Homo sapiens: one gene and its partners. The protein of the gene in region 2 interacts with the protein of the main gene of each other region in a pairwise test. Each region holds a gene or a part of one and is shown on either strand. Other genes may lie near its edges.

Evidence for each region. Proteins that work in one complex are often made in the same cells at the same time.
Region 1: the proteins of DAB1 (region 2) and USP53 interact in a two-hybrid assay, tested with the Homo sapiens proteins (one large-scale study listed by BioGRID).
Region 3: the proteins of DAB1 (region 2) and RBFOX1 interact in a two-hybrid assay, tested with the Homo sapiens proteins (one large-scale study listed by BioGRID and IntAct).

What each region holds. Positions count from the first base shown.
Region 1 is NC_000004.12:119,219,213-119,222,712, reverse strand, and holds part of USP53 (ubiquitin carboxyl-terminal hydrolase 53), read right to left. Parts: intron 1-3,500. UniProt on the Homo sapiens protein: Deubiquitinase that mediates 'Lys-63'-linked deubiquitination of tight junction proteins, such as MARVELD2 and LSR, and which is involved in the survival of auditory hair cells and hearing.
Region 2 is NC_000001.11:57,421,261-57,425,334, reverse strand, and holds the start of DAB1 (disabled homolog 1), read left to right. Parts: upstream 1-1,274; 5' UTR 1,275-1,405; intron 1,406-2,222; exon of another isoform or gene 2,223-2,318; intron 2,319-4,074. UniProt on the Homo sapiens protein: Signaling adapter of the reelin-mediated signaling pathway, which regulates the migration and differentiation of postmitotic neurons during brain development.
Region 3 is NC_000016.10:7,576,024-7,579,523, forward strand, and holds part of RBFOX1 (RNA binding protein fox-1 homolog 1), read left to right. Parts: intron 1-3,500. UniProt on the Homo sapiens protein: RNA-binding protein that regulates alternative splicing events by binding to 5'-UGCAUGU-3' elements. Regulates alternative splicing of tissue-specific exons and of differentially spliced exons during erythropoiesis.

The sequences.
Region 1 (3,500 bases), on a different chromosome or scaffold from region 2:
TCTTAAGTCCGCCAATGGATGAATGGATAAAGAAAATGTGGTATGTATACATAATGGAATATTATTCAGCCATAAAAAAGAATGAAATCCAGTCAGTTGCAACGACATGGATGGAAGTGAAGGATATTAAGTGATATAAGACAGGCACGGAAAGACAAATATCCCATGTACTCACTCATATGTGGGAGCTAAAAAATAAATAAATAATCTCATGGATATAGAGAGTAAAATAACAATTACTAGAGGCTGGGAAAGGAAGTGGAGAGAAGGGATAAAGAGAGGTTGGTCAATGTACAAAAATACAATTAGAAGGAATAAGTTCTCGTGTTCAGTAGCACAACACAGTGACTAAACAGTAATGTATTGTATATTTCAAAATAACTACAAGGGTAGTATTAGAATGTTACTAACTCAAAGAAACAAACGCTTAAGGCGATGGACATCCCAACAACCCTGATTTGATCATTATACACTGTATGCTTATATCACAATATCACATGTACCCCATAAAGATGTGCAACTATTACATATCCATAAAATTTAAAATTAAAAAAAGATACAATTCTATTGCAAGAATAAGGAAGAAAATAAAAAAACTAAACCTATATCCACCATCATAGAAAATTAATGTTAATTTAAGCTTGAAAAATCACCAAATAGCAATACAGAATTCATATTTAGAAATATAAATAAAACTATAGAATAATCAGCTGAAAGACTTGAAAGTGTTTGCTTCTTCAGGGTGGCACTAGAAGGAAAGAGAAGCACAAGGTGCTATTGTATATTGTGGTAAGTTTTCAGTGCAATGCAGTTTATGTCCATGTTTGATTTCAAAATCATCCCCCTCTCTCCTTTGCTCTGCTGTGTATGGGACAACCATACAGAGCTGATCTCTGCAAACAGCATTTCCCAGGATCCCTTGTGAATCCATTTCTGGCCCATTTCGGCCAATCAGAGGCACTGCCAGAAAATCGAAGACAAAGGAGAGAAGCCAAGGTATTTCTCCCCTTCTCTCTCTGCCCTGTTGCTATCTCTGGCATATTCTCCTCGAAGGCTCAAGTTCCCCGTTTACAGCAAGGCCTCTAAAGTTCTAGGTCAGGCTTGGTGGTTCCAGCTCTTGGGCTCCTGTCTTTGGAACTTAAGCCTAGGGACAGTGGCAACTTACAACACCAGATAATTTATCTTCCCCTGGTGGCTCCTTAAGGTCTTCTAACAGCTTTTTAAATTTTTTTCTTATATTAAATTTTCTAATTCAATACTAGTACTAATTTTTTTTTTTGAGCTGGGGTCTCACTCTGTCACCCAGGCTGGAGTGTAGTGGCCTGATCATGACTCACTGCAACCTTGACCTCCTGGGCTCAAGCGATCCTCCTGCCTCAGCCTCTCAAAGTGCTGATATTACAGGTATGAGCCACTGTGCCCCTGCCACTAATACTAATTCTAATGTAATACAACAGTTTTGATTTTCTAAATGGGCCTAATATAAGTAACTATTTGATATTTTCAGATACAGGTGTCAGAAAATATTGACAAAGATTCTCTCATTGATCAAACTCCACTCGAGCTATTCCATGTTCTTTTTCAACTATTCCTCAACTTTTGGACTTCCTTGTTTGTCTCTACGTTGTCCAATTTTAGCAAGAGTCCTACTAAGTCAAGTCAGCCATTCTCCTTATCTGATCATCCTCATATCTGATTAGGTTCCTCATCCTTCACCATCCTCCAGGTGATGTCTGATCACCCTGGCCTGCCTTCAACAAGAATCCTGTTAGGTCAGTTTGGCCAGAATCCTCTCTTATTCCTAATGTTGCCCCCTAGTAATTTTCCATCCACCAACCACACCCACATCCTTGTCTATAAATTCCCGCTTTTACTTGTAGTATATAGAGTAGAGCCCAATCTCTCTCCCCAACTGCAAGACTCCATTGCAGTGCTCCCTGTACCTATCTGTAACAAGTGTCTTCCTTACCATCTTTAACAATTGTCATGAATAATTTTTTCCTTAACAGCATAAATTTCTAAAAGTTTAAATACATAAATATATTTCACAATGCTTAAGAAATTCTTAAAGAAAAAAATTAGAAAACTGGCAGAATCACTTCAAAGGATCTTATATTCTCCTAACTGTTTACTTTGAATGAAATTCTCAGAAGTTCACTTATGGCTTGTTAAAAGCAACTGCATTACCCTACAACACTGCAAATATGAAATAAGTAAAATATTATATCCCCAAATAAAAGAGTAGAACTTACTTTTTCTAAGAATTTATATTTGTCAAACTGCATTTGTGTTTTTAACTCCAATGTAAATAAGTACTTCAGTAGCAGATCTACTGAATATCTCAATACAATTTGATAGATCACTGCTTTTTCCTAAAAGAGTTAATAGTGCAGCTAAAAGGAAAAACTCAGCAATTTCCCTCTTTTTTAGTATATATTTAATTTTCATAAATAATTTTTTAAACCATATAGAAGAGCATACAAGGAAAACCAAGTCTCCCCCATATCAATTATATTCCCCATAGGCAACCAATACCAATGTCTTATGCGTCCCTTCAGAATTCATTTGTGCAGTTATAAACATATATCCACATTTGCCTGTAAAATAAGGATAATTACAACATTTACTGTTATTAAAATTTCTGTAAGGCTTAAATAAGAAAAAACAAAATGTTTAACTTTATTAAGTGCTTAATATCAGTTATTAATACTTTCCAATAAAATATTTTAAAATAAAAAACTTAAATTTGAACTTTAAAATGAACCAGAAGTTTTGAGAAAGAGAGAGAGACAGAAAGAAAAGAAAAGAAAGGAAATAAGTCACTGCTGTTTTCTTATGAGTCAGTGCTTTACCAGCAATAATTTTATCCTAAAAGGCAAGATTCCAGGGCCACTCTCCTTCATTACCCTAGACAAGACTATCAAACTATCTTTTCTCCTTCCAAAACTTAAGCCCAATACATAATTAGTTAGGTAATCTTCACCATGCTATATAAATTATTTAACAGGTGTTTTCCCCCAAAAGGGGATGACACTATATGGAATTTGTTCAAATTCTAACATCCAATAACTTTATCAGGCTACTAGAATGGTCTGGGTAAATGATAATGGCATCTTAAACCTGATTCATTATACCTATTATGGGTTGAATTGTGTCTCCCAAAAACATATGTCCAAGTCCCAGACCTATGAATGTCAATGTATTTGGCAACAGGGTATTTGAAAATGTTATCAGATTAAGATGAGGTCACTGGGGTGGACCCTAATCCAATGTGACTGGTAGCAGTCATTATAAGAAGAGAAAGAGAGAGAATGATGACAGAGGCAGAGGCTGGAAGGATGAAGCTGCAAGTCAAGGAACACCAAAGATGAACAGCCACTGCCAGAAGTTAGGAAGGGGCAAGGAAAGATTCTATTCAGAGCCCTCAGTTGGAACCAATCCTGCTGACACCTGGATTTTGGACTTCTAGTTCCAGAACTGTGAGAGAATAAATTTCTGTC
Region 2 (4,074 bases):
ATCCATCACATTATCTTTGTTATTATACAGCTGGAAGACAGGAGTGTAGCCCCAAAAAGAGTAACGGTAAACTTTTTAAGGAAGGGTTGCCTGCCTCTTGCTTTCCTTTTCTGCACCTGGGTCCAACAGGGTGGTTTGTGTGCTGTGCGAATCTACATATTATGCACTTGATTTGATTCACCAGGCTCCTCTCTTCTCCTGCATTTCAGGCCTCTGGAGACAGGTATGCCACACAACAGGAATTTTCTGGAGTTGAATCTAGTCTCAAGGTGGAAGAATTTTCAGAATGACCCAATATTTTCTGCGACTTGGTGTTTCTAGGATCTTTGTGAGCTAGGACCCTAAGCAAGGAGCAACTGACTGTGTACTCGCTGGAGCCGCCTCCCGCACAGCTTCGAATCGGAGGATTGTTTACTCCCAGTCATTCTAAGAGCCGAGTAGGGGAGTCGCGGGGAGTAAGCCGGAGTTAACCGTGGTCTGCGTGCTCTCAGGGGCACGGGTCTCTCCTGAGGACTGACGGAAACTTGACACGTGCCAGCCTTCTCCCTCCCAACTTGCCGAACTTTGCCTGGGAAACCTCAGTCAAAACAGGAGCCGCCGAACCTGCACTGGCGGCTGGGAGCGAGCGCCCCCTCCTGCCAAGGGGCGTGGGGGCAACATGCCCTCGCGGAGACTCCCCTCGTGGTTTCGCCCTTCCTGGCACTCCATATATTTGGGTATGCATATGTTTTCGAGGCTTGGATAAAAGGGTAGATCTTAGAGAAAAATGAGAGAGGCCAGGCGGAGCTGCGTCCAGTGGTGGTGATGGGGGAGAAAACACTGGATACTTTGTGACAACCCCCCTCCCTTACCCTCTCCACGCTGGCGCGGCTGGGGCGGGGACCCCTCGCTCTCGGCTCGTCTCTCCCCCTTCCACGCTGGGATGGAGAGAGAGTGCAGGGGCTCCAGAGGCGCGACTGCAAGCCGCGGCGCCCCCGCTCGCTCGCTCGCTCGCTCGCTCGTTCTTCCACCTCCTCGTCGCCACCGCCACTCGGCTAAGCTCTCGGAGCGCGCTCCGGCTGCGCAGAGAGCGCCCCGGAGGGAGCCGCGAGGCCGGGGCGAGGGGCTCACGGCCCGGCGGCGGCGGCCGGGGAGCTAGCAGGTGAGCGGTGCCGCGGGGCGCCGGGCGGGCGCGGGGGGCGGCGGGGCGGGGGGCCGCGGGAGGAGGCGGGTCCGCGCGGGTGGCGGTCTCCTCCCCCTACTCTGACGCGGGGCCGGTGGCTCCCGGGGAGGATGGACCCAGCTCGGCGCTCGCCCGGGCTTCCCCGGGCTGCAGAGCGCGCCTGAGTGCCGCCGCCCGCCGGGCATGGGGAGCCGCTTCCTGGGCGGCTGCGGCAGCGGAGGAGGATGCTCTGGGCTAGGCGAGGTGAGGCGCGGCGGGGGCGCGCGGCAACCCTTGAGTTCAGCGCCGCAGGTGCCCCGCGAGGACAGGGCGCCGGGGAGCCAGGAGGCTTCGCTGGAGCCCCGGGGCGCGGAGGAGGGCTCCTGGGACGCGCCACTCAGCAGTTTGGCTAGGGGTGCTGGGAGGATGGCGACTGCAGCAGTTTTTCGCCTTCTCCCTCCACTTGCTGGGAGGAAAAGGGCGACTTCTCTTTCTCTGTCCTGCCCCCCATCCCCGCGCCCCTGTCTCCCTACTTCCGACCACGCGCGATCCTGTCTCCAGACTTGTCCACCCCTGACACGCGTCTCTCTCCAAGACCCCCTGCGCCCTCTTTCCTCCTGCGGTCCTGGCTATATCGGACCTCGAGCCTGCCTTCTCCCGCTGTCCTGGGCTCCCGAAACTCCCTCCCTCCCTCGCTGGTGGCCAGACCCTTTTCCTCATTCGGCCGAACCCCGTTCTCACTTCCCTACTCCTCCGTAGCGCTGAGATTCGGCTTCGACCTCTCGAAAAACCGACTCTATCCCAGTAATCCCAGCCCTTTCGCGGGCACCGTGAGAACTGGATCCCGCGTTCCTCGGACCCCGGCCTTTCTTCGGATCCTCTGTGGACTCTGTTCTCTGCCGCTCGTCCCCCTCCATCCACTCCCCAGCACCCCCTCCCCCCACGCCCAGCTAGTCGCCTCCCCAGCCCGCCCCTCTTCCTTCTCTCTGCTCCAGACTCGACGCTCTGACTTGGATGCAGAGAGCTCAGTTTTTTTTTCTACCAAGGAAACTTTAAATCTCTGTGGTTCGGCTCATAAAGCAGGCACACAAGAGGGTGTCAACCGCCGAGAGAACCCAGAGGCAGGGAGTCCGAGATGGGGGGAGGTCGTGTCGCGGCGTCTGAAAGGGGCCACTGGGTGAGTGTACAAAGTAAATTTCAAAACCAGGGTGGCTGCTGCAGCCAGGACCCTGCCTCCGCTGGCTGCGTCCCGAGGAGTATTATTGTGACCCCTGGTGGGAGGGCGCATCTTTTCTCTGCACTTTTTAAGGCGCTTTTTCTTTTCTCTGTTTTTGTTTTTTGGTGGTGCTGGTGGGCCTGATGGGGGGCAGTGGGCACAAGGGATCGCTGCCTGGAGAGGCGGACGCCACTTGGCTGCTCCCAGACCCGCCAGACTGTGTACGTTTCACTCCGTGTGAACTACCCCCAACCCCCAACTGCATCGCACAAATCCTCATTGTTGGGGGTCTGCTGGGGCACTTCCGCTTAGGCTGGGAGAGTCTGAAGGAATGGCGTGGGGGTGGGGAGGCCGGGGGCGCTTGGCTACCGCTCCGCTCTTGGCGGCGGGCGGAGTGGAGAGCGCCGCGACGCGGGCATCTGTGCGCTCCGGTGTGTATGTGTCGCCGAGTCTGGGGTGCGCGCCCGCGTGGGTCGGTGTCTGCGTGTGCGTTTGGATGTCGGCGCACGCCTGTGTTTAGCTCCATTAGAAAGAGGGGCGATGTAGGGCTTGCGGTAGCGAGAGCGCCTTTCTCCGCCTGGGAGCTGGACGGGGGCGAGCCCGGGGGCGAGCCCTCCTGCGAGCTGGATGCTCCAGTGCAGCTCCTAGCCAGCCGGCGGGGACCGGGGCGAGAATCCGCGCCGTCGTTTCTTCCTCCTTCCTGCTCCCTTCCTGCTGGCCGGTTAAATACACTTTAACAGTGTTGATAGTTTTGAATAAAGGCTGTGTGGGGGTTCCACTACACTTTACAACACTTAACGTTTTCAAGTAATCATATCAATTAAATTAAAGGTGGCTTACGTTCAGAACCGCCTAATTATCCAGTTCACGTTGGTACATTTATGTGCCAATTATAGGTCTTTGGGAAATCCATAAAATTACAAACCATCCCCACCCCTTGAATTAGCACCCATTGTTTTTGTGATCTCCGTGATGAGTGATTCTGGATGGCACCGGAACTGCGCAGGCACTAAGATAGATGGGGGTTCGGAGATGTCAGAAGGAGTAGGCACCCCCCCCCGCCACCCCCCCCCCCGCCACCCCCCATCTCTTTCACTCCCTATCCTGACAAGGCTTGGTGACAATTCTGGGAACTGAAAGTGATCAAAGATTTTCTTGATTTCCTATTGAGAAGGGCACCTAATCAAAGCTGTATAAAAGTCAACTTCTAAGCAATCAGAAATTGTCTGCTGATGTCCTTGATTGAAACCCCAGCATTCAAATGGAATATTGAAGAACTCGCAGAAATGTCTTTTGAAGCGCTATTGTTCTTTTCCATACACAAAGGCTCTCTTAAAGGTTTAGGAAGTTCAAAATGCAGTGGTTTGAAAGGACTGACTTTGTAACTATTTGGCAACGCTGGGAGGATCCGCAGGGATGAGAAAAGAGGCCGAAGTGGGAAGTGCAAATATGTTGTGACCATCTTCTTGGGAACGGTGCTGCTATCAAGTAGGAATTCAATTCTACACATCGAGTTGGCAATTAAATCTCTTCCTAAAGCAGATTTAGAAGATGATTTTTAGTAGTTTTTATTTTTTAATGGTTTGCTTGAGGTCTGAATAGGCATATCTGAAACATTTAATCATGTTCATTGTATTCAACGATAAAATCTGAATAAAAATTACTTATTGTTGATGAAGCTCATCTCACAAGCTGTTTCACAGTATGTTTCATTTGC
Region 3 (3,500 bases), on a different chromosome or scaffold from region 2:
CCTGGGCTCCAGCCATCTCCCACCTCGGTCTCCCAAGTAGCTGGGATGGCAGGCACATGGCCATGATCAGCTATTTTTTTTTTTTTTAATTTATTTAGTGGAGACAGGGTCTCACTATGTTGCAGGCTGGTGTCAAATGATCCTCCCACCTTAGCCTGCCAAAGTGCTGGGATTACAGGCATGAGCCACTGCACCTAGCCCCATTACCCCATTAATGTCCTTTGATGGAAAAGTAAAGTGAAGGTCAGAGAAGAAAAGTGACCTGCCTAAGATTAGCAAATAACAGGGATGGTCTGTGTGATTCCAAAACCCTGGTTCATTGTGCTGCATCCCACCATATAAAAGGCATGCAGGCTGAAAGAGATTTCCTTTTTCTGTTGTTTTATTCACTCCTCAACCTCTACTTCCTAACACTCTTCTTTTTCCCTTTCCATACACCCACAATGACCTGAAACACTTTTGGCTTACTTTTTTATTTTGCATGCTTTAAGGATTCTTTTTAATACACAGGTATTTCTCCATAACAGTTTATACGCATTTGTATATAAGCATACACTACAAAATGATTAATTGAGCGTTGTATGTTTTTATCAAAGGAAACAATGCAAAGATTTCTCCAAAGTGCTGTTTGACTAGAGATGATTAATTTTAATTTTCACATGAGCGGTATAATGCTATTAATCATTTAATATGTTTAATCATAATCTCTGTAATTCCTAATTAGGTTCATTAAACTGAAACATCCAGCAGTTATACACAAATCCAAATCTATGTTTCCTTCTCAGGATAAGAAGGAGCTCATTTTGTTTTTGCATTGAAACGGGAACTTCTAACAGGATGGAAGAGAATGGACTGGAAGCTTAGGGTTTCAGCTACAGCATCTGTAAACTCCGAGTCTGGGTGTAGAGTACTAAAACCCCTTAACTTCTGAAAAGTGACAGTTGCAGGATTCGAGCTCATTTCTGTGTCATGGACGTGGCACCAAACCTCGTATTCTCAGCGGAGAAAACGCAAATTCTGCTCTGTTTGGGTTTCAGTGTTACAGTGTTGCTCTTCGACTATCACATGAAGGCGGCGACATTGATTGTACACTTCTTCATGCATTTGTTTATTCGTGTACTAATAATTCATTCGGTCAGTGAGTGAGCCAACTGTTAAACAGACATTTATCATTTGTGTTACAAGCTGGTCATACCACACTCCTGCTGTGACCCTTAGGTGGCTCCTTATTGCTCTTAGGATGAAGCTCAGACTCTTGCTTTGCACAGTGTCCTTTGATCTAGCCCCTTGACTATCTTTGAAACCTGTCCTCCTGCCTTCCCTTCATACATGCCTCATCTGACCAGTGGTGCTGGAGTCCACACATACTCTCCTGAATCCAAGACATCATTTCACATCTCTGCACATCTGCACATGCACTGCCCTGTCTTGGAATAGCCTCAGTCCTTTTCACCTCTTCTCTTAGACATCTCCCACTTAACGTTTAACCTCCAGAATTGGCAAGCCTGGCTGAACCTCCAGCAGTGTCATATGACCTTGATTTAAGGTTACTCAGCCCTTTGTGATTGCCTCTTATCCCAACATTTACCAGTCTCTGGGGATGGTGGCTCACGCCTGTAGTCCCAGTGCTTTGGGAGGCAGAGGCAGAGGCAGGAGGATCACTTGAGGCCAGAGGTTCAAGACCAGCCTGGGCAACTTAGTGTGACCCAGGCTCTGCAAATAAAAATTAGCTGGGTATAATGGCTCATGCCTGTAATCCTAGCTACTTGGAAGGCTGATGTGGCAAGATTGAGCCCAGGATTTCAAGGCTTCAGTGAGCCGTGATTGTGCCATGGCATTCCAGCCTGAGTGACAGAGCAAGACCCAACTCCAAGAAAACAACAACAAAAGACAATGACAAAATGATTCTATTTATGATTGTTTTTCTCTATTGGTGTCATGCACTAAAGTTGGAATTGCATGTGACAAGGAGGGCTGATTTATGTGTCCAACACAAAGCAGTTGCTCAGTAAAGATGTGTAAACACTTTAAAAATAAGCAAATGAAAACCTTTCCTTCGTGTTTCTCAAAGGAGGTTTATTTCTCTTTTTGGTATTTAAAAAACTTGCCATCATTCTAAACATTTCGTCACTTTCCATTTATTGAATACATACCAGGAACTTGGCCAAGTTAGCACACATTAATCAATCACAAAGCCTCAAAAGGTATGAACTCATTATTCTTTATTTACCAGTTAAGAAAATGACCACTGTACTGCTTCCTATTCAATCCAACAGTATAGGCAAAATGACTAAATACATTGTCTAAATACATGACTTGCACTTAAAAGCTGAAGTCAACTGGTAGGTCTTTTGATACCAGAGCATCTTGGAAGAATGGTTTGCCAGCTAACAAGATGTCTTTATTTCAAAATGCGATTCAGGGTGTGTTAGGAAGGAAAATGCAAATGAAACCTTCCAGTACATACCAGGGCTGATGAGAAACTTGCTAATTATGCCCATGTTATCTGAGTGTTTGTTTTGTATTTCACTTTGTAAGATTGTCTTCTCTCGGTCGTTATTATTTTACACCTGGCTGCCTACATTGATAGTTTTGTCCCAATTATGTACTTCTAGATTGCTTATAAACAGGTCAGGATGATTCCTCACTCATAAATTTGATAGGCTTCTGTGTAAGCTTTCTATCATAGTTTCAAAGTTGGTATCTGATGTGGATGGCATTTACTGCCAGCTGGAGGCAATAGTTGCTAATTGCAGAGAAGTATCAAATGCTAAATGTCTGAAATGTTAAAACTCTAGAACCGAGAGTATGGCAGTGGCTATAATGATACCTAATGTGACTGTGACTTTTCCCCTCGTTCCTGCCAAATATGTGGGTGTCAATGTAACGTCATGTTATACAGCCTTATTTGGAAGACAGGGGAGGTGAAACAATCAGTTATGCTGATGATGTTACATGGTCTAGGCAAACAGAGCACAACAGCACTTTCTGCAGAGATGGAAACGTTCTGTATTTGCATTATTCAGTATGGAAGCAATAACTACATGTGGTTCTTGAGCGCTTGAAATGCAGCTAATGCAAACAAAGTTAAATATCTTGTTTTAATTCAGTTAAATGTAAATTGTCACATGTGGTCAACTGTAGTGGACAGCAAAAGTTTGTACAATTAGAACCTCAAAAGAATAAGTCAATCAGCTGGTTATTTGAACTCCAGAATGCCAACTAGTCTTTTCACATTTTTTACATTTAATTATGTTTTATCTGCACAATTACCTGAACAATTATGTAGGCATATCTTCAGATTCTGAACAGCGTCGGTTAAGAAATACACACTGTCCTGCCTTTAAAGATTATTACCCCCTTCTTGATGAGGTTCTCGCTCCCCACCTCCCAACCCCAGCAGCTCCCAGTCCCCTTCCTTTGCTTTTTCTAGCCTATAGTGCTTTTCTCTGTCTGCCAACACTCTATCTATGGATTTATTGTCTGTGTTGCCCTCATGA